Linked DNA regions of Homo sapiens. The protein of the gene in region 2 purifies or fractionates together with the protein of the main gene of each other region. This does not show direct contact. Each region holds a gene or a part of one and is shown on either strand. Other genes may lie near its edges. The genes, in order: NUP35 and RAB23.

What was found.
Region 1: the proteins of RAB23 (region 2) and NUP35 purify together in Homo sapiens (affinity purification with mass spectrometry; one large-scale study listed by BioGRID and IntAct). This does not show direct contact.

The regions. Positions count from the first base shown.
Region 1 is NC_000002.12:183,130,651-183,134,485, forward strand, and holds part of NUP35 (nucleoporin NUP35), read left to right. Parts: intron 1-344; exon of another isoform or gene 345-467; intron 468-2,915; coding exon 2,916-2,973; intron 2,974-3,835. UniProt on the Homo sapiens protein: Functions as a component of the nuclear pore complex (NPC).
Region 2 is NC_000006.12:57,188,582-57,191,324, reverse strand, and holds part of RAB23 (ras-related protein Rab-23), read left to right. Parts: intron 1-724; coding exon 725-864; 3' UTR 865-2,743. UniProt on the Homo sapiens protein: The small GTPases Rab are key regulators of intracellular membrane trafficking, from the formation of transport vesicles to their fusion with membranes.

The DNA.
Region 1 (3,835 bases), on a different chromosome or scaffold from region 2:
GTAACTGTGTTGCACAGAATAAACATTAAACACATCATAGAATCTACTTAAATTGTGTTGATGATGAACTGTACTTAACAGTGTAGAACTCTAGATTTTCTCTCATAGGTAATTCTCAGGTGTTTATAGGTATGCCTTATCCACCTGCCCATAGCTCCAACCTACTTAATATACATGTAGAATGTGACTATGGTTTAAATCATTCTGATTGTTTAAGAAGTTTAATATTTAATATTTAAAAATTATGTGAAAGAACAAATGAAAATTTAGAGTTTCATCTAGATCTAGGGCACTCGTCAGCTGAGAAGTAGTATGGACTTGTCTTTATTTTCTTCTTTTTTTAGGGTCCCCAACAGGGTCCTGATCAGTTGCCCAGGCTAGAGTGCAGCGGCACAGTCATAACTCTGCAGCCTTGAACTCCTGGGTTCAACCAATCCTCCTGCCTCAACTGTCCTATTGGGATATAGGCACGTGCTGCTATGCCTGGCTAATTGTATTTTTTTTTGTAGAGATGAGGTCTTGCCGGATTCAGGTGATCCTTGCACCTTGACCTCTCAAAGCGCTAGATTATAAATGTGAGCCACTGTGCCTGGCCGACTTTTCTTTTAAGTAGAAAATTTAGTAGCTTCATAGACACAAGTGTTGTTTCCTATTATTATTGTGCTTAGTAGGACATATAAACAAAGTTTATCAGTTAAGTTGGTAAGTTCTTTATATAAAGATATGTCTGCTGTTTGCTTTAGATATATGTTTTATGCCTTTCCCTAAATTGTATTTAGTGAAGTTGAGAGTTCAAGAATATTAGAAAGCATTTTTCAGTGGATTCGTGCTATTTATAGGCTTGATATGTCTGGCATACTAGGCTTACTTGTCAAGTAAAGCAAAATTCATTCACTGTGGTAAACAGATTACTGTTTCTTCCCAACACTTCTAGACCTGCCTTCCTGTCCAACAGGAGCCACTAGCTAAGTGTGGCTATTGATACTAAAGATATAGCTAGTCTTTATTGAGATACACTTTAAGTATAAAATACACACCAGAGTTTGAAGACTTAGAAAGAATGTAAGGTATCTTATTTTTTTATGTTGATTACATATTGAAATGATAATGTTTTGGATGTGTTTGGCTAAATATTACTAAATTTCACCTGTTTGTACTTTTAAAATGTGCCTACTAGAAATGGTAAAATTACACGTATGGAATTTATTGTTCCTAATGGATAGATATCCTGGTCTGGGATGGTTTTCTAAAGGTTGATAAGTAAAGCTTATGATTAGTTTGGTATGAAGGCTGGGCGTGTTGGTGCATGCCTGTAATCCCAGCACTTTGGGAGGCCGAGGTGGGCGGATTGCTTGATTTTTATGTATTTTTATTTATTATTATTATTTTTTGAGACAGGGTCTTGCTCTATCACCCAGACTAGAGTGCAGTGAAATGGTCATGCCCCACTGTAGCCTCGACATCCTGGGCTCAAGTGATCCTCCCACCTCTTCTCCCTAGTAGCAGGGACTACAGATGTGGACCACCATGCCTGGCTAACTTTTGTATTTTTTGTAGAGATGGGATTTGTCCTGTTGCCCAGGGTGGTCTTGAACTCCTGAGCTCAAGTAATCCACCTTCCTTGGCCTTCAAAAGTGCTGGGATTACAGGTGTGACCCACTGTGCTGGGCTTTGGGCAGATTGCTTGAACCCATGAGTTTGAGATCAGCTTGGGCTACATGGCGAAACTCTTGTCTCTACTGAAAATACAAAAAAAAAAAGGCTAGATGTGGTGGTGTGTACCTATAGTCCCAGGTACTCAGAAGGCTGAGGTGGGACGATTGCTTGAGCCTGGGAAGCTCAGGCTACAGTGGGCTGTGATCGTGTTACTGCACTCAGCCTGGGTGACAGAGTGAGACCCTGTCTCAAAAATAAAATAATAAAAACTAAAAAATTAAAAAATTGTTTGTTGCAAGAACCACTGGCTTCTAAATTTGTGCAAGGTTTTATTACTTCTCTGATGATACAGACAAAGGCTTACAGATATTGCTGTATTCAAAATGTTTGAAAGACTCGTGGGTCATAATTTATAGAGAATGTTTTTGATTTGAAAGTTGGTAAGAATATTATTGCTAGATTAGAGCCCAAATTAGTTATGCCCCCTGGAATTTGCTCAGTTTGCTTTCTAATCATGAAAGAATTGGCATTAATAATTGAGGAATAAATTTTATATCTCTCCCAACATTCTCTCAGCATTTAGTTCTGGTTGCTAAATGAAGCTATTTGAGATTTCCTTAGTTTAATTAGAATCTGTTTTAAAAAATCTTTATTGAGTTCTAGAGAGATTCTGTTCTCATTTATTGATTGGATATTGTCTTTGTTTTAGAAGGATTTTAAACTATTTTAATCCTTAATTTTCTTATATTTAAAGGAACTAAAATGGATAATTTACCAGTTTTGGAACTTTCTACTGGTAGTGGTAGGGATATGCTGTCTTTTATTGTTTAGACTGATTTGAATCTATAGTGTTTCATGGTTTCTAAGTATCTGTTGAAAATCAAATTTTGTCACCCTTCTGTTTTTCTGTATGAACCTGGTCATTTTAAAAATTACCATTATCTCTGTTATTTCAAATATTGTACATTAGAAACTAAAAACAAATAGTTAACATGTCACCTTTTACAGAAGATAGTCTTTTTTTTTTTTTTTAACATAATATGACTTTTCTTATTTTAAACAAATACTAAGGGATCTAGTAAATTTTAGGTTAATACTGTTTAACTTATGGGGAAAAAAGAGTGCCTTTGTACTTTGAGCTAATTAGAGGCATCTCTAGCACATGATAAAAATTCAGTTATCCATTGAATGAAGCCTTTTAACACTTACTGTATTTATGTTTTGCATTTTTACCATAACACTTTCTTCTGTTTGTGTAGCCAAACATTTCAGTAATGCAGAGTCCTCTTGTTGGAGTTACATCTACTCCTGGAACAGGTAAGTGATTCTTTCTTTTTTTTTTTTTTTTTAAAAGACAGGGTCTGGCTCTGCTACCCACGCTGGAGTGCAGTGGTGTGATCACGGAGTAAACAACTCTGACACCAAATACTTCTCTATTCTTCGAATGAATTTAATATAAAATGTTTGTTGGTAACTGCCAAAATTTTTTATTTTATATTTCAAACTTGGAGATTTTCCAAAATCTATAACTTCTTTCAGGAAGGAAATACTTTGTATATTGATTATTTTCTGAATCAAATCACCCTAAAGGTATGGTGGGGTGAATATTCAGAATGTCTTTTTAAGAAATTGTATACTTAATAGATGTTTGAAGTATCTCCTTAGTTATTAAAACTTGTCAATAAAAAAGCCATTGGAATTGGGATGAAAAGGAATAGTTAAGACACTGAATAATAAAGGTGTTTTGAGAGATGTTAATGCATAGTTATAAATCTAAATGCCGTTGAATAGAAGCAACCACTGATTATATACCTAGTTTTTCTTTAAGATTAATGGCTTTTTAATAATCATCATTATGCTTAGCACAGTTCTTCATATGTCGTCATATGTGTATAATCCCATCAAATGTTTATTCAGCAAATATTTGAGCACCTAACTGTGTACTCTGGGAAATAGTAAACAAAATAGATATTCCCTGCCTTTATGGAACTTACATTTATTTGCAGAATTTACATTTATAAACAAAACAAGTAAATTATAACATTTGTTAGAAGGTATTACATTTTGTGGAGGAAAAAATTAAGCAGCAAAGGGGGGGAGGGGGTAGAGACTTAGAGTTTTAAATAGGGTAATGTATTAGTTTTCTGTTGCTGCCATAACAAACTACCACAAACATAAA
Region 2 (2,743 bases):
TGCATAAACTATATCTGGAAGGATAAGTAGGAAAAGTAATAACATGCGTACCTTAGGGGTGGGAAAACTGGCAAGGGGTGAAAATCTGGGTAAAAAAGAGCCCTAATGTGACCTCTTTTACAGCCTTGGAACTTTGTACCATGCGTATTAGCTACTAAAAGTAAAACTAAAACAAGAGCTTTAAAATCATAAATCTGTGTCCATTGATGTATGAAAGGATAAGCAAAATGTGGTATATACATACAATGGAATATTATTCACCCTTAAAAAGGAAGGAAATGCTTCAGTGTTCTACGTTGGATGAACCTTGAAGACATTATGCTAAATGAAATAAGTCAGTCCCAAAAAGACACTATTATTCCATTTATATAAGGTAGAGTAGTTAAAATCATAAGAGACAGAAGATAGAATGGTGGTTGCTAAGGTCTGCAGGGAGGGGGAATGGGGAGTTAGTTACTGTTTAATGGGTATGAGTTTCAGTTTTAAAGATGAAAAGAGTTATGGAGATGGACGGGGGTGATTGTTCCACAACATTACAAATGTATTTAATACCACTGAACCGTATGCCTAAAAATGGTTAAGATGCTAAATTTTGTTGGATTTTACTACAATTTTAGAGAAACTGTAAATACTTGAAAATATTACTGATTTTACTAACAAGCTGGATGCAACAGGTAACTCAGGCGTGTCAGTGGCAATCACTCTTTTCCCTCAATTTATACAGGTGTCTTTAATACATCTGGTGGAAGTCACTCCGGTCAGAATTCAGGTACCCTCAATGGTGGAGATGTCATCAATCTTAGACCCAACAAACAAAGGACCAAGAAAAACAGAAATCCTTTTAGCAGCTGTAGCATACCCTAAGATGTTTTGGGAGGAAAACAATTGAATTACATTGTGCAATGCATTAAGAAACCCATCCAGCTGTCATGGTATGTTACAAGGTTTTCAGCAGACTTTGCTCCTAATGGCTCTCTGAAAGTGACAGACTTAAATATTGCTCTGCAGTGCTTTTCAGAATGTAGAGTGAGACCTCTGGTGGAAAAATTATTGCCCTGTGGACTCCTTTAATTTTTTTTACATTAGACGAAGCTTCTCCTGTTTGTAAAGGAATGCTATAAGAAATTTCAAACACAGGTTTTGCGGAATTTTAAATGCTGGAAAACATAAATGAAATGCCTAAATATATTGTTACAGATTTTAATACTGTGGATCAAGGAAAGATAGCAAGCATTCTTTTCCTGAAATTGGTCATGTAGCTTTTCTGCGAAATAGTATTGAATCTGAATACTTTCACAAAATAATACTGAAAGGTAAACCCTAAATCTTGCCAGACTGCATTAGTATTTTGGCATTGAAACTTGTGCAATATCTGTGTAATGTAGAATGTGGGGTGTGCATGCAGATGTCTGGTACTGGAGTAAGCTGAAGGTATGTGCAGTATTTAAGAAAATGTACATTCTAATTAATTCACTTATAAAACCATTTACATATTGTGTATATGTTTTTATTTTCAAATGATAAACTCTAGACATATATTTTGCAAAATGAGCTTGGGTTTAAAAAGTGCTTTGTGCCAAAAATATCATACCTAATTTTTATAGTGCTTTACTATCAGAATTTATATTGTTTATTATATCTTTTAAAAGCAGTAAGCAGTTTTCATCTGACAGCGTAGATAAAAGAGGAGTATAGGAATTTGAATGCTAGAGCATCTCCCAGGTGAGCCTTATTGCAGATCTTTTTGATATAGTCACCCATAAGCATGGTGAGCTCCTGCTCTCATAAGGTCAGCCAAAGCCCCTTAAGAAGGTACACAGCACATCTGCAGTCATTCAGGAGGTCCTGTGAAGTGTGGTGATGCATCTAACACCTTTTGCTGCTCACTGAGAACCCAGCTTTGAACTTACAAGATTACACTAACCATTTTTAAAGTGCACAAAAATATTATTATTAGTCTTAACTAAAATTACATATTTTATAATGCCCTGCAACTCTAAACCATCCTTTTGTTTACACATTTTTGTATGGTATTTTAAGATTATCAATCACTTCAACATTTCTATAACCTTGTTTGTATAGCACTTTCTCAAGAGCTGTCAGTCCCACATACAGAATCATTTCTTTTACAAAATGATTTAATATGTAATCATGTGTCAGGACATAAATTTTGTCACTTGGGACAGTAGCTTTCCAGCTAAGATAATTGCGTGAACTCTGTTAAAACTGATTATCACTCATCAATGGCTTTATTTTTAACCTATAAATAACCCCTTTCAATATACCTGGTTTTTACAGCATTGCAAAATCTGTAAAAATAACTTTTATTGGAAAATGTCATGAAGTCATTTTTCATTATTTGTACTAAACAATGTTTTATGTACTCCTTTTGTGTTTTATCTTTTGTTTTTCCATCTGTACTCCCCTCATCCTCCTAATGTTGAGAAAATCAAATTTCCTGGGTGTGTCCTTGTTAAGTGATCAAAAGTAAATGTTCTCTTTGCCATTTTAGATGGAAAAATAAAAAAAATTAAAAAGTAAATTTTTGCTTTTCATTATATTGAAATGATCTGGCATTATCTATTTCACAGTAATGTAAAATGCTTATTTTTATGTCACCAGTTGTCACCACTCCCATTGCTGATAGTGACATAGGTTTTGGGGGCAAAATTCAGTTCCTAACAAACAGTGGATACTGCTAATGAGTCATCTTTTCTACTCTCTTCAATTTTCTACTCTCTAC